Regions from separate parts of the Homo sapiens genome. Here region 1 is linked to region 2. The links come from fine-mapping of genetic effects on gene expression. Tissue or cell type: whole blood. Region 2 holds a variant in brackets; the other region holds the start of a gene. All regions are shown on one strand. Distances are between the middles of the regions.

What was found.
Region 1: it holds the start of ABHD2, and the variant in region 2 is fine-mapped to the expression of ABHD2 in whole blood (INTERVAL, PIP above 0.99).

What each region holds. Positions count from the first base shown.
Region 1 is chr15:89,082,138-89,093,846 of GRCh38, reverse strand. ABHD2 (abhydrolase domain containing 2, acylglycerol lipase) reads right to left here and starts at 5,391. Exons shown (of 11, transcript NM_152924.5): 1 at 5,284-5,391. It overlaps LOC124903573, which reads left to right. Exons shown (of 7, transcript XM_047433432.1): 3 at 1,606-1,671; 4 at 2,564-2,712; 5 at 4,915-5,012; 6 at 5,161-5,779; 7 at 5,906-6,286. The coding sequence ends at 6,120. It overlaps CARMAL (coronary artery disease region linked MFGE8 regulatory lncRNA), which reads right to left. Exons shown (of 4, transcript NR_183882.1): 4 at 9,618-11,356. RefSeq lists enhancers at 4,732-5,251, 5,193-5,372, 5,983-6,628.
Region 2 is chr15:89,106,241-89,117,949 of GRCh38, reverse strand. It overlaps ABHD2 (abhydrolase domain containing 2, acylglycerol lipase), which reads right to left. Exons shown (of 11, transcript NM_152924.5): 2 at 4,126-4,225; 3 at 1,429-1,628. The coding sequence starts at 1,622. LOC124903573 reads left to right here and starts at 11,418. Exons shown (of 7, transcript XM_047433432.1): 1 at 11,418-11,510. The coding sequence starts at 11,418. RefSeq lists enhancers at 1,820-2,395, 4,960-5,089, 6,163-6,701. The variant A/TAA (reference allele first, on the strand shown) is at 6,009.

The DNA.
Region 1 (11,709 bases), 24 kb after region 2:
GCCATAGAAAGTTCAAATACGAAGAACCTTGAAAACTTTCTTCTTAGAGTCGGCATCAGTGGAACCCTTTGTTAGCGAGGCCAGGTCAGGCTCAGACCTTGGAAGTTTAAAGCGGTTTGGAGATCTTGGGAAATACTTTCAAGGACAGCAACAAAATTACGTGTGGGCTTGGGGAAGACGCTTTACAGAGGAGCAGGTGTGAGAGCTGGTTTTTCCTGGGGTGAGAGAAAAGAAGGGGTGAGACACTTAAAGCTACCCAAACAGAAAGTGCTGTGACAAAGGGCAGGCTTCCTCTTGGACGCCCAAAGGCAGGACAAATGGAGTGATGCTGTGGTGCAGGAGACGGGATGAAATGCAACAGAGATGCTGGAAATGAGGCCAGGCACGGTGGCTCACGTCTGTAATCCCAGCACTTTGGGAGGCTGAGGCAAGAGGATCACCTGAGGTCAGGAGTTTGAGACCAGCATAGTGAAACCCTGTCTCTACCAAAAATACAAAATTAGCTGGGGGTGGTGGCGTGTGCCTGTAATCCCAGCTACTTGAGAGGCTGAGGCAGGAAAATCGTTTGAACCCGCGAAGCAGAGGTTGCAGCGAGCCAAGATTGCGCCACTGCACTCCAGCCTGGGAGACAAAAGTGAGACTCTGTCTCAAAAAAAAAAAAAAAAAAAAAAAAGAATGAAAAAAGATGCTGGAAATGTGACTTGGGGAGGCCAGGAAGCTTCTCTGGAGAACAGAGAGCAAACGGCAAACTTTCCCTGGAAATGCTAGCACATTCTGCACAGACGGCAAGGCGAAGAAGGGCCCAAGGACCAATGCGTTCCTCACTCTCCAGTGCCCCAGCTCTCCCTTCTCAGCTGACCTTTAGAAGCTCCCCTGCACCTCCCCCGGGCTCTCACAGAAAAGAAAAATATTTGCCTCCAAATATTCACAAGATCTTTAAGATCTCCAGCAAAGCTGCTGCCTAAATAAGACTGTTTTTTAGCATCCTTAGAAACAGAAAACAGATATCTAAAATAGACGGCCTTCATAAAAAATGACGTGGAAGCTCTTTTCACACTGCCAAGAAATATTAAGTGAAAAAGGCAAGGTTCCAAATAGCATGTATGCAGTGTGCTACCATTTCTGCAAAAAGGGGTGGTGTACAGAATATGTTTAACGAATTTGCTTACAGATGTATAAAATCCCTTGGAAGTTCAGGGACCACTTCTGGAGGATGAAGAAATCGCTAATACTGGTTGCCTCTGAGGATCAGGGGTCAGGGGTACACACAGATGTATTTACTAGTTAACCTTTTGTGCCTTTAAAAAATTTTCTTTCATCATGTGAATGTATTGCCTATTTTTAAAAACTAAAATTTGAATTAAAAAATTTTAAAATTTCTATTAAAAACAATTTTAAAACAAAATAGTTTTTAAGCAACAAACCAAACTAATTTGTTAATCTTGTCAACTGTGTTCCTGGCACACACCAGATGCTTAATTTGTTGAACTTAATGAACCTCCACTTAAAGACAACAAAAGAAAATCAGAAACCAGGCAAATCCAAGGGTACCAACGTTCCACTTCTCTAAAAAGCTCTTCACCTGTCTGCTATTTATTGTGAAAGATCAGACAATGAGTCGGTGTGTAACAAGCCCCTCACCCAAATGGCCCCAGTCCACAAGCTTCAGGGGTAATGGTGGAGCTTATCGTCTGTCCACACCAACCATTTTACAAACAGAAAACATTCAATCCAAAAATATGATGCCCTGGACAAGACAACAAAAATCAATCTGCAGATATGAAAATCCTGAAAGGAGATAATGTAGCATCTGTATGGTATCAACAAAGAAACAGCAGCACAGGGCTTAAAAATGTCCTACTCATGCACTGGCCAAAAAGGCTGAACCATGAAAAGCTGCTATAAAATCCTGACACCAGACACATTTAAGAGGCACCCTGAACTTCTCATTGCTCTGTTCCTGGGGATAGCTTAGCCCAAGATGAAACAGAAAGGCTAAAGCAACTCATGCCCCACATCATCTATACTCTGAAACTGGTCATGGAGTACTCAAAACTCACAATGCAATAAAAATGGGAATACTGTAAGCTGTAGGTCATGGTAGAAATTCTGCCACACAAAATTCAATTATATTGGAAATGTCTCTCTCCTGGGGCTTTTAAAAGAGCCAGATTTTAGGCAAAAAATAAGACAGACTCTACCCCTGTCTCCCATAAGACCAAAGAAATTATTTCCTGCTCGGGGCAGGAGCTCTGAACAAGGGCAGTGAGAACCACTACAGAGGTTATGGGTCCTGCCGGAGATTACCAGGAAAAGGCGTAAATGCTTAAAGCAACGAGTAACAGCAAATGAGAAGCTCATCCACCAAAATACTGAGAAAAGAGAGTGAGAAAGAGAGAAAGGGGCCCATATTAATACACAAGCAAAGAAATGAAAACTATTATTCTAAAATGGCTGATCTCTAGAACAGCTTAAACAAAAACCGAAATTCAGAATCAACTCAAGAAAAATAAAGCATGAGAAGGTGCCATTTAATGAAGTGATAATCTTTGGTTCAATCTAGAAAACAAGTAAAAACAGAAGAGAAAATCAAAGGTGACTGGATTCCTGCAAAAAATGAAAGTGGCAGGCATCTTTTCATCAAAAGGGAATTGGCTGGCACACTGAGAGTGCCTATTTGTCAGACCCACGCAGGCGATAAAGGAAATGAAGGTGAGAGTAAAAAGGGAAAAAAGTGAACGACCCTGACTAAAATGAGAGGAAAAAGACCATTCCCTTGTACTTGCCATCTGGTTTATTTCAAGCTTTGGAAAAGAACAGGAAAAACACAGATAAACCAGTGAACCAGCTAGATTGCCAGCACGGATCAGTCACACACTTTTGCTTCTGCCAGGCCAGGCAGGCGCTGCTGGTGCTCCCCCTATTCGAATGACTAAGTAACTTCCTTAAATGCAGTTGACACATGATCCCTGAACTTCCGAAAAGCACTTAATACAGTGGCTCATAAAATCTTAATCTAAAAATGTTCATCCATTTAGAATCAAGCTGCATCACACTCATCGCTTGGGAGGAGGGCTGAAGAGAGGGAATACATATTTGGAAGGACACCATGGACACGGGTATCATCCAGGACTTTACCATTTCGAGGGATTCCCACCCCTCACTGCCTGCTTTTAACGATAATTTTAAAGGGTTCAGAGCCTAAGAAGAATGTAACTGCAAGGGGGAACTAACATAGAAACTAAATTACCTGAATCACAAAAATAAGTAAGGTATAAAATGCAACGTGACTTGGAAACCCCTTGCAGCTGTCTGTGTTAAAATGAAATCTGGAATATGTTAAATGAATTTGGGGGTGGGGGGAAGGGGACTGGGGGAAAAATTAGCTCTTGATAGAGTATTGGGTGGTGGATATGAAGAAAAATGTACAAAAAGGCAACAGAATATCATATCTAGCAAATCTATTGTGCTTACCCTGTGCCAGGTACTGTTCTAAATGCTTCAGATGTAGTAACTCCATGCACTTCTCAAAACAATCTTCTAACATAAGTATCATTATTATTTCTGTTTTAGAGGTGAGGAAACAGAGGCACAGAGAAGTTAAGTAGCTTGCCCAAGGTTGTACAGCCAGTAAGAGGCAGGGCTGGGATTCAAATCCAGGCACTCAGGCACCAAAATCTGTCCTCCTAACCTCTCTGGACTCCCCTAGAACTTAAAACACTGAGAATGGGCAAACTAAGCTTGGAGTGAAATAAGTCATGCACTGGCTAGATCTAAATACAGTCAAGAGATCAACCCTTAGTCATGGGCCTGTGATGACCAACCAGCCCTGTGACCACCCCAGGCCTCAGTTTCCTCACCTGTGCATTGAGGAGACTGAATGAGAGTCCACCTAATTAGACTTAGATAGAGATGAGCTCTATCTAAGGTGCCTTCAGCTCTAAAATGTCACAGTCCGTGCTGACTACCAGCTGTATATGGACTGCTTTCTGACTAGATGTTCAAAGATTAATTCATCCTAAAACACACAGCAAGGTGTGTTAAGATTCTTTCTCTGCCTCCTGACCTTTAGATTATTATGTTCTCTCTATTCCGGCAAATGACAGAGGGTAGTGAAGGATTTCTCTTTTGGACTCTGCTTAATGTGGCTGTAAGGAAACGGCCTTCGAAAAGCTCTGGGCACAGATCTTGTTGACTCTGCCAAACCTGCAGTCTCTCCAGGTCCCTCTGTGGAGCCTGTTCTTGGAACATGCCTTTGGATTTGGTTACTGGAATGCAGGTGAAACTGACAAACTGGAGGTCCAGCAACCAAAAAAGAGAGATTGGGAAGATTAAGAGAGCGGTCCATGGTAGTTCAAATACAAGGAGTTTCACAGTGGCTAAATAAACCTCTATCTTTTTGTATAATCCAGTCTCTTTGCTAACACCCACTCTTGAGAGCTGAAACCTCAAAATTCATTATGGGTGAATTCAACAGCCACTTGGAACCTAATGGACCCCCAGAAGTACTCTTCTCAAGCTAGGCATCAAAGGCCACTTAGAGTGCATTTGTGGGTAGAGAAGGCCCTTACAGATGGGTCATGCAGTCCTCCCTTGGGAGTCCTAAGCATCCGACACAGGTGGCTGTCATCAGGCCACTGCTTGGACATCGCCAAGGTCGAGGCGCTAGCTGCCCGGCCTGGCAGGCAGCCTCCTGCGCTGCTGGACAGCTCTAGCTGTGGGAAAAGCTCACGAAGGGCCTAGAACAGTGCCGGTCGCGGGGCCGAACTCGGTAAATGTGCTTCCAAGTGGGTCAAAAGCTGCCTTTCTAGAACTTAAACCCACTGGTCCTGCGTGAGCCCCTGGAGCCCCGAAACACAGAGGCCTCTCGGGTATCTCGGGCTGTAATCAGGCCCCTCGGCCCTCTCCTTCCAGGTGCGGATCCCGGACCTTCTTCGCCGAGCCTGAACCGGCAGACCCCTCCCCAGGCCCCTGAAGACCCAGGAGTGAGCACCAATGGGGGAAAGGCCGCGGTCGGGGTTGTCCCCAACCTCGGTTCCTCGGGCAGAAGGGGACAAAGGGCCTCAGGAAGGCGTATCCCCCGCCGCGATCTGGGCTGTCCCCACCACTGGGCAAGCCAGCCCCTGGGACCCCCACGGCGCCAGATGACAGGCCCCCCAGGATCCCCTCAGGCTGCGGCGTGATGGGCCGAGCTACGCCGGGGACCTCGGGGCTCGGAGATTCGGTTCGACGGGTCCGGGGTGCGATCCCCGCTCCGCGGAGCTCGCTCGGCCGTGGCTTTACCTGCGTGTGATTGACTACAGGTGCTCAGCTCGCCCCCAGTCTGGTTCCTGCAGCTCCCCGGCTGCCAGCGGCGCTCATGGATATACAGCCGGAACCCCTGGCCAGTGCAGCTCCCGCCGCTACCGGCCCCGCCCAAGTAACTGCCGCCACGCCCCTGACGACCGCTTCTGCCACGCCCCTAACCACGGAAACCGCTTGTTCATTGGGCAGTTCAGCCGCTTCTCCACTTGCCCCGCGCGCTCATTGCGTCTAGGAGGGGATCCATTGATCAGCGAAGCTGTTCCTCAGAGTGGAGGCGGGATTCTTAGGGGAGAGCTCCTCAGCAATTGGTTACATTTGACGGCTTTAGTCCAGGGACCCAGACGCTACTGGATAAGGCCAGCCCGGAGTGGGCGGGGAAAGGGGAGGAGGGCTAGAAGGTGGGTCGTGTTTGATGTCGATGGGGGCGGGGTGAAGAGACGGGTAATTGTGACCGCAAACTGCTTTAGAGGGCTGGGTAAGGTCAGCTGTCGACTGGGCTCAGAGGAATGAGGTCGGCTGGTAGCTCAGCTGCTGGTAGCTCAGCTGGGGCTCTTATGGGTCCAGGCCGACTGACTGACTCACGTGTACTCAAATTTCGCAGGGGTGAAATTTGAGGTCATATCCCGGGAGAGAGGAAGAAGGGTCGTGAGTCACCGAACCCGAAGGAGAGGAAAAGATGTGGAGGCAGCGGTCTATGGCCTCTTCCAGCTCCGGACGGGGGATGGGGACGCTCTGGGCAATACGGGCCTCAGTTATTGTCCCACTGTCCTTTCAACCCTTAACCAACCCAGTTGGAGGCCGCCTGGAAGAATGTAGCCTTGGAACTAGGGCCTGGAATTGGGGCTCCTACCGGTTGTGTGGGCTTGGGCAAGTCACTTAACCTTCCCGCATGCTCCCTTCACTTGGCAACTGAGGGTAACAATAGTAGTTGATGAGAAGATTAAATAAACTCTGATAAATGCCAACAGTGGCTGGCACTCAACAGGCATTCAATCAAGGCTGATTCTTCCCCCATCACCCACTCACCTCATCCGGCTGGGAAACTAGGCCCATTTCTAAAATTCTATGAGCCTGAAACTGCTTTTGCAATGGCATGTCGTGTACCAAGAATAGAACACTTGAGCGACTTGAAATGCAACCCCTGTAGGGCAGACAAGGCCACCCTACCAAGGCCCCATAGGGCTCGGAGAGAGGGAGCAGGGGATGAAATGAGAGGAGCGATTTAGTCAGAGAAGGGAAGTGGCATTTGTTACCATGTAAATTTTTCCCAACATATTTCAGGTTGTGACAAGGAACAGTGGGCTGGCTCAAGTTTTATGGAGCGTAACCAAATAACATCCTTTGAAGGCTGATCAGCACCGGACCAGAAATCATTGCATGAGCTCTATCTGTCAGAGACCCCTGAAACCCATTCCCCATTCTGAAGGTGTAGACATCACAGAGTGTGGACAGAAATAGCTTCTCAGGCCTGAATGTAGCCCCAGACCCTTTGTGTCTGTCTTTGAAAGAACTCACAGCCATGGTACATCAGAGTGAAGGAGAAGAAAGAATCCTTTGCCATTGCTCTATTTTTCATTCAGTTGTCATGTTACCTTGAAAAAAAAAGGTTTCATCTCAGTGTTTATATATTCCTCTGTATTCTCTTTCATCTTGGAAAAGAAAAACCCAGGCTTCAGTAGCAAAGTCTCTTAGTGATGAACCCCATCGTCCTGACTCTGAGTTAAAACAGTTTGGACTTCCAAAAAAGAGCTTTAGATTATCACTAGATAAGTATATAAGGTAATGCATATGTTAACTAGCTTGGTGTAGCTATCCCACAATGTATACATGTATCAAAACATGGACCGGTACAGTGGCTCACGCCTGTAATCCAACATTTTGGGAAGCTGAGGCGGAGCCCAGGAGTCTGAGACCAACCTGGGCAACATAGTGAGACCCCGTCTCTACAAAAAATTTAAAATTTAGCCTGATGTGGTGGTGCATGCCTGTAGTCCCAGCTAGTGGGGAGGCTGAGGCAGGAGGGTTGTTTGAGCCCAGGAAGTTGAGGCTGCAGTGAGCTGTGATCGCACCACTGCACTCCAGCCTGGGCCACAGAGTGAGACCTTGTTTGACAAATAAACATAATAACATGATAAACATAAATAAGTAAAGCATGTTGTACATCATAAATATATACAAATTTTGTCAATTAAAAATTAATAATAATTTAAAAAATAGGCTGGGCACAGTGGCTCAAGCCTGTAATCCCAGCACTTTGGGAGGCCAAGGCAGGAGGATCACCTGAGGTCAGCAGTTCCAGACCAGCCTGGCCATCATGGTGAAACCCCATCTCTACTAAAAATACAAAATTAGCTGGGCATGGTGGCACACACCTGTAATCCCAGCTACTCAGGAGGCTGAGGCAGGATAATCGTTTGAACCCAGGAAGCAGAGGCTGCAGTGAGATTGCACCACTGCATTCCAGCTTGGATGACAGAGTGAGACTCTGTCTCAGAAAAAAAAAAACAAAAAAGATTTGTCACTAGTTTTGGAGGGGTGTGTACACATATCTATGTACACATTTGGTTCTGATCCACAGTTTTCTGGTTCTTGTCTTTAAACAGTGCTGCTTGGTAGCCATACACATGGCTGCATGCATGTTACGGAAATAGGCCCAGCCCAATACAGGTTTGCTTCTGCCTGTGTTTGCTAAGGGAAAGTGAGATGTCTTGTTAGGCCCTGAAAAGCATGAAGTGGCTCCTGAGATCCAGGATGATTTCTCCAACTTGATTCAGAGCCACAAAAAGCAGCTGTTAGGAGTAGATTGCAGATGGGCTCGCCATTGTGTAAATGGCTTTTTTCTCCCATCTCAGGAACATAGGTTCAGCCACCAGTTCCAGAAAAGGACATCTTTCCAGTTCAGGAATTCTAAAACACAATTATGTCACAGAGGCTCAAAAAGAGGCACAGACTGAGCTCAGGAAGAGGAGGAAGAGTAAAAGGATCCGGGCATCTTCTCTGCAGCTCTGGCAGGCTTAAAGAATGATCCATTATCATTTCCCAGCACACAGAACTGTTTCCTTAATTGTCTCTGGTTTCTGTTTCCTCCCTTCTGCTTGCAGTCTTGCCATATTCTGTTTAATCATATTATTTCATTCTATAAATCATTTCTGAGGGAGGCCATTTAGGAGACAAAATGGACTTATTTTTGCCTTCAAGTTTAGTGGCCCGTTGGGATTGAGGATTTGGTGAGCCTTGGCCTGAGATAAGCAGGTGTTGGGATGTGGCTGTAAAGTGAATTTTCAAAACCGTGACAGTACCTTGTAATAAAAAAGAACAAGGGAGAGGGTATGCCCCAGTCACCTTCTGGGATGGCCAAAGCTGCAGGACTTCATTAAAGCAGAACTGCTTCTAACTCAACTGGGGCCTCTGCAGGATTTACTAACCTGAGAAAGTCAAGGTACTCTGGGAGACAGCAGGGAGCAGTGGTTGGAGCAGATAATATGTTCTATTTATTCTTTTAAGGAAAATCAGCAATTCACTCAGTTTGTCATTTTTGTTATTCTGTGTCCTCGGGGGATGGTTCAGAGAAAGGGGATTTGGAAGCTCTACTGCTGGGGATTGGATCCTGATTCCATCCTTCCTAGCCTTGTGACCTTGGGCGAGTACAGCACATCTCTGTGCCCTACTTTCTTCTGTAAAACGCAGAGGACAGTGAAGTGCTTGTCTCATGGGGTCCTTTGAGTGGCAGATGAGTTCACAGATGCAAAGTGCATCAAACAGTACCTGGCAAATACCTAAAAATGTTTAATAAATGTTTGCCACAGCTATTATAGGAGCCCATTTCAGAACCTTCCTCTAAGGTCCTCACTCATTTTCTAAGTTCTAGCCCTCAGAAGTAGTGATCACAGGATTCAGGATTTTTAGAAAATATAGATAGACTTTATTTTTTAAAGCAGTTTTAGGGCCAGGCGCCGTGGCTCATGCCTGTAATCCCAACACTTTGGGAGGCTGAGGTGGGCGGATCACTTGAAGCCAGGAGTTTGAGACCAGTCTGGTCAATTGGCGAAACACCGTCTCTACTAAAAATACAAAAATTAGCTGGGTGTGGTGACGTGTGCCTGTAATCCCAGCTACTTGGGAGGCTGAGGCAGGAGAATCGCTTGAACCTAGGAGGCGGCGGATGCAGTGAACCAAGATCGTACCACTGCACTCCAGCCTGGGCAACAGAGGGAGACTCTGTCTCTAAATAAATAAATAGTTTTAGGTTTATAACAAAATTAAGTGGAAAGTACAGACAGTTCCTATATACACACTCTCCAACACATGCAGGATTTTTTTTTTTTTTTTTTTTACACTAGCAAAATCTCACCACCTGGTGCGAGAAACTTTTCCTTTCGAATATGGTTACCAAAAACGGTTTGAGGACCGAGTTAAGGTTTTTGAGACTAGACCTCATCAGTGTAATCACTGTGAGGGAAATGGAAAGGATGAGGCTAAGAGAATAATAGTAAAAGCTGCAGCCTGGAGGTTCATAAAGTATTCCTGCAGTCATGACATGGTGCAGTCTGAGGGATCCAATATTGTGGCTTTATTGTCACAGCCGGTGCAGTCTGCATGCAGTCTAGGAAGGAGGTTCAGAATGTCCTGTTACCAGGTCGACTGTCTGGCTTCTTATTGGTAATGGAGATGAAGTTTGTTTAGAGGCTTTAAGTCCCAGCATGCAATAGTTCCATGAGGACAAACTATGATGAAATTCAAAAATGTGGTCCTTTTGTTATTAGAAAAGGCTTTCTGGTGGCCAGTGAAAACGATCATGAAAAATAATCTTGTCTGTGATTTGAGCTGCTTTCTTAAGCTATATGTGAGTTGTCTATAGTAAAATCATAAGATGAACACTCCTGGCTTATGTATGTTGTCCTGGCAAAATTTTAATAGTGCCCTCCCTCCCACCAGGTGACTCTCAAATAGTCCCAATTTGGTTGATAAATTTTATGGTAATATTTATACTTACATATATAGGACCCAGTACTAAAAATGCTCATGAAACACACAAACACACATACACGCACGTGCACGCGCGCACACACACAGATGAAAAAGTGTTCTAATCTTATAATCAGATACATACAGAATATCTGACAGGTGACTGGCTAATGATGACTTCTTCTTAGTCACCATGCATTCCTCTTCCTGATGTCATTCTTAATTACAGAAATAAAAATTGAGTTTTTCATACTATTAATTGCAAAACAGTCGATAAAACTTGTGCATTAAATAAGCTCATCATACACCCTTTCCTACATAATTTTATGTTATTGAGCTATTTTAAAACTATTTCCGGAGAAGGCGAGATGCAGTGTAAAAAAATAACAACAACTACAAAAAACCCACAAAAAAACAAAAACAGGCCGGGCACAGTGGCTCACACCTGTAATCCCAGCAGTTTGGGAGGCCCAGGCGGGTGGATCACTTGAGGTCAGGAGCTCGAGACCAGCCTGGCCAACATGGTGAAACTCCGTCTCTACTTAAAATACAAAAATTAGCCCAGCGTGGTGGCAGGCGCCTGTAATTCCAGCTACCTGGGAGGTTGAGGCAGGAGAATCGCTTGAACCTGGTAGGCGGAGGTTGCAGTGAGCCAAGATTGCACTGAGATTACACCATTGCACTGCAGCCTGGGCAACAGAGTGAGACTCCGTCTCAAAAACAATAACAAACAATTTCCATCTTTCCAGAGACCCCTATATTATTTTACCATATATTTAAATTAATTTACAAGACAGTAAACATTTTTTACTGAGCAAGACATCTAATACTAGAAAGACAGAATCATGAAGTCCCATTCATTCCTAGGTGGGGATGGATATAGGACAAATGGGAAATATTGACGAGATAACTCAAAGGACTGAGCAATAAGCACAGAGTGCAATCAGTGTCAGCAATAATTATTCAGAGGAGGCAGCAATTTCTTCTGACTTGGATTCTTGGAGATTTGAATTGGTTTTTGAAGGTCTATGGGCTGAATTTGGTAGGGCAGCATTGGCGGTGAGGGAGCATGGCATTCCAGGTAGGCCTGTGAGTGGATGAACACAAGATAGTTTGTCCATAGCAGAGTCAAATAGGGACCCAGTAGGCGAGAAGATGAAAAAAATGGATGGGGCTGGTGGTGGAGGCCAGATAATGCCTTCATCTTAGTTAATGGCTTCGTCTCAGCCCCTTGGGTATTTGGATATCCTCGCATAGTTGCAGAGCAAACATCCCAAACTCCAGGCATCTGCAAACCACATTGATAATTTTGACCCTATCTCTGTACTCTCTGCTTTATTATTTACTTAATAATGTTATTAAATTGACTCAACTTTTAAAATTAAATACCTTATTCAGCCCCATCCTAAACCAGTGGTTCTCAACTGGGGGCAGTTTCAT
Region 2 (11,709 bases):
CTCTTGACTTGGGGTCATGACATCACTGTCACAACTATGAGAAAACTGCATAAGAATACCGCCCATGTACACCCAAAACACCTAAAGCACATAATAGTACATGTGAAAATTAACTAGACAACTACACAAAGCAGGGGCCCAGACTCTCAGATGTTCATTGCCTATTTGTCTGCTCTTAGAAGAGAATCATTCACCCAGTGTCCCCAACAGCCAAAAGAGGTGATGAGAGGTGCTATCAGGATGCAGGGAAGAGCTTCTACCACCACTGGGTCTTAGCAACTGCATTAGTCATGTGCTGAACGGACACACTTGAGGAAGACATCTCTCTGAGTAGCTGCAGCCTGAGAAGGCACAGGCAGAATGGAGTAAGCTTGAAAAAGCACAAAGCGAGTGAAGCAGCATGACAAAAGGAGTGGGGAATTCAGACCCACTGTGCACGAGGCTTGGCCTGAGCCCTGGAGGAAGACACAGTCATTCAGAAGACATCTATAGAGAAAAAGTGAACACTGCATCTCTTGAAAACAGTATGTGTGACACAGAGTGCAGATTCCCTTCATTTTACAACTACAGTTTCCTCTGTCAGAAGCAGAGCCCGCCCCTGCTGCCTCCAAAATACAGATCTGGAGGAAGGTGCAGTGGCTCATGCCTGTAATCCCAGCACTTTGGGAGGCCAAGGCGGGCAGATCACTTGAGGTCAGGAGTTCAAGACCAGCCTGGCCAACATGGCGAAACCCCGTCTCTACTAAAAATACAAAAATTAGCCGGGCATGGTGGAGCACACCTGTAATTCCAGCTACTCCAGAGGCTGAGACACCAGAATCGCTTGAACCCGGGAGGTGGAGGTTGCAGTGAGTCGAGATCATGCCACTGTACTCCAGCCTGAGTGACTGAGCAAGACTCTATCTAAAAAAAAATACAGATCTGGGCTTCTATAGGGAAACCTGGTTCACTCATACAAAGCACTCTCTTTAAGTGCATTCTCTTAGCTAATGCTTGGTACATTTTTCAACAAGGCAGATGGAGAGTACTCAACTAATGGATCTGTGCTTTTTTGCTTATTAATTATTTTGGGTGAGGATAGTTTCTCCATCCTAGAACTGGCAACAAAGCATTCGTTAAAGGACTAGAATATTGTCCAACTTTTCCATATCTGCCTAAAAATGACTACTATTTTCTGCAAAGTCCCTGTCATGGATAATGACATCACACTGTAGAGGAAGGAATGTTTCAGGCAACAGAGATCTGATTCTCTCCTACCCTCCAGGATTCAAACACTAGACTGCAATCAGACTGTGGCTATTTTAACACCAGTGACGTCATATCCCATTGATGCCTTAAGGACACGATGAGAGAAGTTTCTTCTTTGAACATCACACAAAGCCAAATACATCAGCAGCTGAGCATACAGAGGGCATGAGGTCTACTCACTCTTTGGTCAGAAGAGGACAGGACTTGAGCAGAAAGCGTGAGAGCCCCGAGTCCTGGAAGTAGAGGTCAGGTGGGGCTGTGGGGCTCTTCAGGTTCAAACACCGGACGATCACGTACAGCACAGCAGCCACTGCAGCCAGCTTCACTCCATCAAACACGGCTGGGAGTTCGGGAGTCTCCAGCATGGCATTCATCTTGATCTGGGGAGCAGAGGCACAGGTCTAAGTTTACAAGCACAGTGAGGACGGGTGGTGCCCACCACCCTACAGACGCATGGTGGGCTAAGAGATACTGCCAGTGACGGTGTGTCACAATTCAGATGTTTCCGCAGGCTCCTGACAGGCAGACACCACCAGCATCTTACAGCTACTAATCAACTGGCCATAATCCAAATCACAAACAGTCTGAGCATGGATAAACTGGGTACTGTGTTTTCTTTTTATAATTTCACAAGCATTTCTAAGATGAGCAAATCAGAAAATTGAAAAATGCTAAGAATAGTGTCCTTTATCGGAGGGGGAAAAATAAGATCAGTCGAAGAGGTGGCTGCAGGACTAGGGGTAGCACTTTGATTTTTGTTAACAGGTCATCCTTTTGTTTTTTTTCCTCTCTGTAGGCTTAACCTGCACCTGGTGCCCCAGGTGTGTGTTAAATGTTGTGTTTACAGCCTTGAACAGAAACCCGGAAAGGACTGCTGGTGCCACCAGGTGTGGTTGTACTGCCTGCTGGCTTCACCCCTTTATTTGCAGAGCAGGCTGAGATAAAGCAACCTCAGCCTGACTCAGCCATCTGCTCCCCACAGGCTCCCCAGTGCTGGAGTCTGGGTCAGACTCAGCCCAGGTCGCAGCGATCCTGGCTACTAAGGGTTTCAGGAATGAAATAGAGCTCGGCTAGTTTGTTTTGTTTTGTTTTTTCCCCCTGCGGAGGCTACCTGACTATAGCCATTAGTCCAAAATTAGGTTAAAAGTAAACCAAATTGACCACTAGGTCAAAATCTAAAATTGGAATACAGAAAATGTATATGCTCATCTGGCCTTTCCCAAGCTCTCCCAATATTTCTCTTTTGAAGTAACTTTACCTTATATACAAAACACACACACACACACACACACACACACACACACACACACACACACACACACACACACACATACCTCCAAACATATAAAACCAAACATAAGCAATGACAAAAGCAACAGCAACAAAAATCCAGTATTTTCCTTGCTGCTCGGCAGAAAAACAGAACATCAGCTGTTAACCTTAAAAATCAGGGAAATCACAAGCTAACAAAAAAGAGAAAATGGTAACTCTCATAGCCAAGGTAGCTATGGCAACAGCTTCCCCTGGAATGGTTTCAAGTAGCCTCTGCTAACAACAGTCATCATGAGAGCTCTGGTAGCCAGTGCTAGAGACAGGCAGAACAAAACAATCTCCACCAACTGTGTTTGGGGTATAACCGACTGAACTTTCCTAAGACCTACAGTAAGTCCAGAGAGGACTCAGAAACCCTTTTCTAAACTCGAGGTCACTTTGGCAGAAAATCTCTGGCAGGGATTCCTAATTCAGTAATGAATGGAAGTAAAAGATCACAGCTCCGTAACTAGTCTTCCACCATCAGGGCAAGACAAGGATTTTTAAAAACTTACTGACACAATTTCAAATCAAGGCTAGGCCATGAATATAAACTCAGCTACACTGAACTTCTGTGAGGAGACAGTTTTCCTAAAACTTAACTTCTGGGCTGGGCACCATGGCTCATGCCTGTAATCATGCACTTTGGGAGGCCAAAGTGGGTGGATCACTTGAGCTCAGGAGTTCGAGACCAGCCCTGGCCAACATGGTGAAATCCTGTCTCTACCAAAAATACAAAAATTTGCCGGGCGTGGTGGCACATGCCTGTAATCCCAGCTACTTGGGAGTCTGAGGCAGGAGGATCACTTGAACCCGGAAAGCATAGGTTGCAGTGAGCCAAGATCACACCACTGCACTCCAGCCTGGGGACAAGAGCGAAACGCCGTCTCAAAAAAACAAAAACAAAAAACAAAACAAAAAAAACTTAACTTCTGGTGACACTCCTCCTCACTCCTGGGGTCATATCCCCTGAAAGCTGTCTATAAACCCCTAAAACAAGGATCCTTAACTTGGGGTCTGTGGGTTCCCTGTGGGATCCTGCGGTCTAAGAACCCCCTGAAATCATGTGAAAGTTTGTGCACATGAGCAGTTTTCTGGGCAGAGGGTTCGCAGCTTTAATCAGATTCTCTAAAAAGGGTCTGTGGCCTAAAAAAGTACATAGCACTGCACTAAGATGCCCAATAGGTTTAACCTGTGGCTGCCATTCCTCACCTTGTCCAAACCCTGCCACGGATGCCAAACAAAGGCTAAACAAATGTCCAAGATGATGCAGCTTGTTAATATAGGCTTTTAAGTCTCCACATTCTATTAGAGGACCAAAACTAAAATCCACCAGAAATTCTCTGACTATATGCTGGTAATACAGAACTGAACTAGAAGTTCTTCCTCATCACCTTTGTTGGAAACAGAACAGGGTAATGCAGCAAGTAGTTTCTACCAGTTTCCTTGTTGGTTTGGGGTGGACTTGTTGAATTAAACAAGTCAGTCCTTCCCTTCCCACTTCTATTCACTGCTTCCTAACATAAGGGGAGGAGAAACAAAAATAAGAGTCTCAGCAATACATACCAATGTTACTTATTCTTCCCACTGCAAATACGAATTTTCCTTGAAGAGTTGTACAGTTGGGCCGGTCAGGTCAGATCTCTTATTCAAACAAACCTAAAAGCTAAAAAGATTGGATGGTAATGTTTTAAAGAACGAAAAAGAAGCAGTTTAATTGAAACGTAAGCACAGTCAAGTTCCTCTGCATTTAAAGTCTTTAGGGAAAAGACAATTTTGTTAATTAACATGTATGCCACACTCTTGAATGTTTGGCCTTTTTAACAAGCCTGCTGCGGGAAGGCTTTGTGAATCCACCAAGACTGACAGGCTCTCTCTGGTTTCTAGGACAAGTTTTCTGCTGTGTTCCTAATTCTGGCTAAAGCCAATTCACACTGCTTTGAACCTTTATCTCACAACATAATCTCCAGAAATGCCTAACAGGACAGGTAACATCTCTGTGTGACCAATGAAATAACTTAGCAAGGCTTGAGATCGAGACAGCACAGCCAGTCGACTTATTTGTTCTCTTCCAAACATACAGCAGGGACAGAAAAAAATATGAGCTGAGAAAAGTAATAGGGCACAGATGGGCTCAAAAACAAAGTACCAGAAACAGAACAGGGCCAAAAGCAAAAGGTAGGGGATTGCATTGCTTGTAGGGTCTGAGTTCAGACTATGGCCAGAGGCTGGCTGCTGAGAAGCGCCAGAAGCTAAAAGTGCTTGCTGTCAGATGGGGGACCTGAGCTGAGCCTAGTGCAAGAAGCTGCTAAAAGATCTATGGCTTCCAAAGCAGCAGAAGCAAAAGAGAGAACATGGGGGAAACAGCCCAATGTTTATGCAGCACTATCTACGTGCTAAGCTCTGCTCTTCAAACTTGACATATGGTAGCTCATTTAATCCTTCCTGTACCCTATGAGGTAGATGCTATTATTACCCCATTTTATAGACAAGGTAACTGAGACATAGAAAGTTTAAGTTACTTTCCCAGTGTCATACAGCTGGTGGGTAGAAAAGCCAGCTTTCATATCTGGCCCAAGAGATCCTCCTCTTAATCACCATGCTGTGCTACTTGAAGGCAGGTAAGTGAGAAAGAAAGAGAGGCAAGCAAGAAAATGGATGGTGCAGGAGACACACACAAGACACCAGAGGCTTGCCCAAAGTCAGACAGCTGTAAACAGCAGAGCTGGGATTCAAGCCCAATTTCTTTTTTCTGATTCTACCACACCAAAATGACCTCAGAAGAAAAACAAAGCCCATTGAAGGAAAGAATCAATTAACCTTCAGAACAGTCTTGCCCAGCTTCCAATTATTATCTGTCCCTATTCTGAGACAAATTAGTCATAGAGGACCAGGCTGTGGTGAGGTGGGGCCGGAAGAGCAAAGTCTTCAGCCACATCACAGGCCACCTGACCCCACAGGCTTGGCTGCCAAATGAAAAACAGGGCATGGACCAGATCAAAGATCCTAAACTGGCAGCCCATGGGGCAGGCAGTGTTGCATTCAGCTGGCATTTAAAAAAAATTAATTTATTCATTGCCATATTATTAACACCAGGAGATTTCAGATAAAAATCTAGATTTCTGGTTTCTCTTGGAAACAAAATCAGAAGATTTGGCAACACAGGGCCAGCATTCTCACACGGCAACAATGGACAGAGCTGAGCAGGGCTGCCCCGCTTCAGACCCAGCAAGCTCTCTCCAGGTGGCCACAGTCCCCACCACTCCCTATTAGTGGTGACCTCAACACTGATCCCTGGCCCGCTTTAATAATGTATGGTACCTGAATGGTCCCCGTAAGCATCTGAATATGCAACCTTTGGAGAAAAGCATCTAAGGTCCCTTCTAGCCCTGAAAAGGTCTGTGTTGACTGAATATTTGAAAAATATACAATCAATATATATATATATA[A/TAA]ATAAAAAATCCCTAGAAAAAATGATGGAAAGGCAGAGTGGCAATGCTGATAGGATAACAAGATGTAGTGCCTTTTATTTATTGATATTTTCATTGAGGTTTATTTATACCTTAACTCTTTCCACAAACTATTTGAGACAGCTTCAAGAAAACACCCTTACTGAATCTATATGCATAGGGAAAGATATGGAAATGTATAAGACTGGTGAATGCTTTCTGGCTTCCCTTAGCTAGGTGAGTCCATGTAACTAAATTCTGGTCAGCTCTGGAGGGGTAGATCTAATTTTTGGGAAAGCTCCTTAGAGGGCAGGGAGTTCACCCTTTGTCTGCCCTTTTCCCTTCTTGCATCCCTGGAATGCAGAAAACATGGCTGCAACTCTAACAGCCCTCTTGGGCCATGAAGTGACCTTGAAGTCTCTCTAGGAGCCCCATTAAGATGACAGCAGGGCAGAGAGACAGAAATCTGAATTCTTGACAACTTAATGGAGCCACCATATCAGATCTAGACTGCCTATCTCAGGACTTCTTTTACATGAGAGAATGAGCAGTTGAAGCCACTGTGACTTCTAGACTGTTTTACTTGGCAATTTCTAAAGATATAGAAGGAAAATTATATATTCAAATCTTTATGAATGCTAAAATCACTGCGTTATAAGAGTATTGGCGACTTCTTTTTTTCTATTTCCCAAAATTCATAATGACTACAAACATTTTTATTATTAGAACAAAGCTTTAAAATAGCAACTAAGAAAATCTAAGGAGAAATTTTAAAACACTGGAAAGGAAAATATGTATGTCAACATACACAACAATTATATATGTGATAAAGCTTTAATGCATGTGATTATGCTTTAATTAATTTATCTGAGCTTTCTGACTGTCAGGGGGAAAAGGGAAACCCAGTCAGACCTATGGTTTCCAAAATGGAAAGAGAGCTAACATATATTGTGCTCTTACGCCCAGTGGCATAAGAGAAACTCTGTGGAAACAGGGCTTATCTGGCACAGAATTATTTAAAAAAAATGTGGGACTTTATGTAAGGGGACCTTGAGTGATGTGACAGACAATGTCCTCCCACAACTTTTTTTAAATAGCAAATGCAGTAGAGAATTAATTTCCTCAACCCTCAAAAAATGCCAAGGTTTTAAAATTCAATTCAATTCAGGGAAGGCAATTCTATGAGAGATTTATAATTATTGTGGTCCAACTACACAGCCTCGATCCAAGGTTTCAACCTGAAGTCCTGAGGTACAGGTCAGTTCTGCATGTCCCTGGGGGTACTCCCTGGAGTTTCAGCAGGCTTAATTAAGTACCTGACTACCTCCTGTGCACCTAGCACTGTGAAGGTTGGCAGTTAAGTAAATTCTCATTTTAACCAGGGAGAAAAGAAATTTATGTTAAGGCTATCTGTACTTTAGAAGCTTAGATAAAAATCAGTCCAGAAAAAAAAAAATTAAGCAAGGAAGTCCTCATGGAGCAGCTAGATCTAGAACCCAGCCTTAGCGAATGAAGTACAGTTGTTCCTCCTTAACTGCAGGTTCAACCAATCAGATGAAAATTTTTGAAAAAAAAGACAATAAGGCCGGGTGCAGGGGACTCACGCCTGTAATCCTAGCACTTTGCAGGCCGAGGCGGGCGGATCACTTGAGACCAGGAGTTCAAGATGAGCCTGGCCAATATGGGGAGACCCCATCTCTACCAAAAATACAAAAAAATTAGCCAGGTATGGTGGCACGTGCCTGTAATCCCAGGCTGAGGCAGGAGAATCACTTGAACCTGAGAGGTGGAGGTTGCCACACTACCACACTCCAGCCTGGGCAACAGAGTGAGAGTCCGTCTTAAAAAATAAAAAAAAAGAAAATAAGAGAAAAGATAGTATAAAAAGAAAAATTTAAATAAAAGCAATACAGTATTTAAATTATTTACATCATTTACTTTGTAATAGGTATTATAAGTAATCTAGAGATGATTTAATGTATATAGGAGGATATGCATAGGTTATATGCAAATACTATGTCATTTTATATCAGACTTGATCATCTGTGGGTTTGGTATCTGCAGGGGAACTGGAACTATTTCCCCAAGGATATACAGGAACGACTGTATAAAATGTAGAAGCATGTGTAAGTATGAGTGTGTGCATGTACGTGCATATACATAGGTATTAAATGAGGAGATAAGTAATTTTAGAAGAAAAATTTTCACATTCACTTTATCTTGCTGCATTTTGTTTTATGGTATTCTTTTTTCCCCAAGTCTGACTTGTCACTATATATTAATATTCTGAACTTGTTCTAGATACAGCAAACTCTGATTCCATTGTATTATTTTGTGTGGCCCTCCCCACTTTCCAGACAGGTGAAATCCAGTTAAAATGAACATCAGGCAGCCTAGATAGGGAAAAGAAGTCACAGAGAACAGCTGGAGGGCTGGGTATGTCGCAGATGGAAAGGAAGCGTCTCCCTACCCCCACCCCAAACCCAGCTCCACCTTCATGATGGGCTGGGCTTCCTGTGTCCCTGTGGCAATCCCTTCTCTGTCGGCTAGCCCACACCTTCCCTGCCATTTTATGAATGGGATTTAGGTGCTGTAAATGGTAGTCAGAATTCCATTTATAGTCCGCATTAACAAAGGAAACCAAGGTGCTACCAAATGCCCAACATCTAGTCACCAAAGGAGCTCCCAGTGTTGCCCCTGGTCTCTAAGACAAGCTTGACTGGTATTTCCACCAGAGGTGAAGGCCTGAGCTGTGTCTCCCATGCCTCTTTCTGCTCTCCCCTGGCTAAAAGCATTATTTTCAGATGGAGGCACAGATAGAGTGAGAAACTGCCACTGCACTGGGAAAAGCTCCAGTCTGGGGGCTCTGAGACCTGGGTCCTAGTGTCTGCTCTGCCCTTTCCTGGCTGATGACCTTGAATCAAGGCACTTAATCTTTTTGGGCCCTAAAGGCCCCATCTGTAAAATGAGAAGGTTAGATTAGAAGTAGATGATGCCAAAGGTCTCTTTCAGCTAGAAATGTCTGAGATTCTAGGGACAGAATTGCGGTCCTCGGCTAAAGAGCACAGGAAAAAACTATCGCTGTACTTTGTAACAGAAAACGGCCATTTTCCAGCCTACTTCATAGATGATTACACAGTAAAATTCTTAAGAACTAACAACCCTCAGGGCCTTTGTTCTTTCTTCAAATAAATTAAACAGTTATATATTTTCTTTCAGCTGTGCCAATAATTTCATCATATTCATTCCACCTGCATGGGATCGTGATGCTTTCAGCCTTGGAACACCAATATTCACTGACAGGACACAACTTACAGTGCGGAAAGCACGAACAAACAGAGCAGAGAGATCCCAAACAAAGGAAACCCATTACCTGGTGTAGCAAGTTGAATAGGGACCCTCCCCACAAAATTCATGTCCATCTGAAACCAGTGAATGTGACGGTATTTGGAATTGGGTCTTTGCAAATGTAATCAAGTTAAGATGGGGTCGTACTCGTTGGAGGGAGTCCTAACCCCATGACTGGTGTCCTTGGAAGAAGTGAAATCTGGATACAAAGACACAGATACAGAGGGGAGGAGGCCACGTGAAGATGGAAGTGGAGACTGGAGCCACGTATCTACAGCAAGCAATGCCAAGGATGGCTGGCAACCATCAGAAGAGGAGACAAGCAGGGAACAGTCTTGCCTTCAGAGCCTAAGGAAGGAGCCAACCTTGTAAAACCTGTTTTCAAACTTCTAGCTTCTAGAATGGTGAGAGAATATGCCCAAATTACCTCTCATGACTCAGGAGTTCCACGCTCCTGTCCTTAGTGGCTGAAGGGACCGTTTGCCACTTCCTTCTGAAAGGACCCTTGTTACTCAGACACGCTCCCATCAATTCAGATGACAGCTAACTGACATGAACACCCACAGATGACTTCTTAACATAATACAAATTGCATTCTGTGAATAAATACTTATTGGCTTGGCTTCTTTGCCTCTGTGATTCAGCTATCAGAACCATCCTTTCCTTTCCTCTTAGCTATCAGCAAAGTGAGAGAGCTCAGAGGACACAGACAGCTGGGGGAGGGGGAGATCTCTCTTCCTTGCAACCCTCAAGGACCTAGCACAACAAGCTTTGATACTTATGGGTCCTAAGGCAAATACCTCTCAAGGAAAACCAAACCAAACCCCTAAAGGATTTCTCTGTTCCAATTCCATCTGGTTGAAGATGTAAATTTCATTTAGGGTCCAGTCCTGCAGTGACACAGCCAGTGCCAAATCCAGCCACAGTGTTTGTCCTGGGGCAAGTTCCTTAATCCCTCTGAACACCATCTGTAAACTGAACATGTTAATACATAAAGAGCATTTTAAAACAATGCCGGCATACAATACTACCGTATTTTTAATATTTTGGGGTACTACCGCAAAATATTCGCTATTACCATCTCCACTATTAAACTTTCCTCCATTTTGCCTCAGTAAACAACCTAAGTTGACAGATAGAAACGACCACAAAACATACTCCTTCCTAACTGACACACAAGTCTCATTAGCAATGAACTCACTAGCTGATTAACTGCTTGGGCCTCCTCCAATGAGTTTAAAATTAATTCCAGGACATACTCTTCTTGATTCTTCTAAAATGGAACCATATCTTCTAAAATGGAACCATGTTAGACTTAATAAATCACTGGATACTAAGTGGTGATCATCATGTCCCATAAACAGTTCCAAGATGCATTGTTCTTGTTTTCTGTGCTAAAATGCATCCTTGGCAGTGCACAGCTGGAACCCCTGCTCCTGACACCACCCCTCTCCTGCTGAGGGGCTTCTCCTGCCCATGGAAAGACTACCCATTCTTCCCTGCAGGTAAAAATCCCCTCTTGCCTAGCCTGGATCTCCCAGCAAACTGTAATGCCCTGAGATAAAACTTTGTCCCCCAAAGTACCCTGTGAGGATGTCAGGAGAAGGACAGCAGAAGGCCACAGCACACCACCCCAAAAACATGGTCTGTTTCCATCCCATGTCATTCTGATTTTTCAGCCTCTTTGGTGGCAGCTTAGATAAAAGTACAACCCCATCTTAACTTGATTACATCTGCAAAGACCCAATTTCCAAATAAGGTCACATTCACTGGTTTCAGATGGGACATAAATTTTGGAGGGTCACTATTGAACTTGCTACACCAGATAAAAGTGGTCAACCTTAAATGTGGGCAACATGACACCCTTGGAGAGAAAGTAAGGAGGAAATGGGCCACCTTCTCCCCACTTTATCTGCCATTTAACTAAATTAGTCAGAGCCATCATAGGGGGAAAAAAACCATTCTGCAGGGACGAAAACAAGCCCAGATGATTTTGGGGAGAAGGCCTAGCCATCCCCGTCTGAGTTGTGCCTTTGTGTCCTCTGAGTCTTTCACTGCCATGGGATGGGAGAGCCTCAGAACATAGCCAGGAGGCTTCGGGAACTGCACAGCCCTGGCGACCCGGCCCTGTTCTCACTCTCGGTAAGGTCTAATGAGGTGAGTGAGCACCTTAGCCAGCAGCTCACAGACCCACCTTTTAGCAAATCGGTGTTGGTCTAGGACCACGTGTCCTCCCACAGAGGGTTCTGTGGAATGGAGTCATCACGGTGCTCAAATACTCTGGGTTTGTTTGTTTTTGAGATGGAGTTTCGCTCTTGTCGCCCAAGCTGCAGTGCAATGGCACAATCTCAGGTCA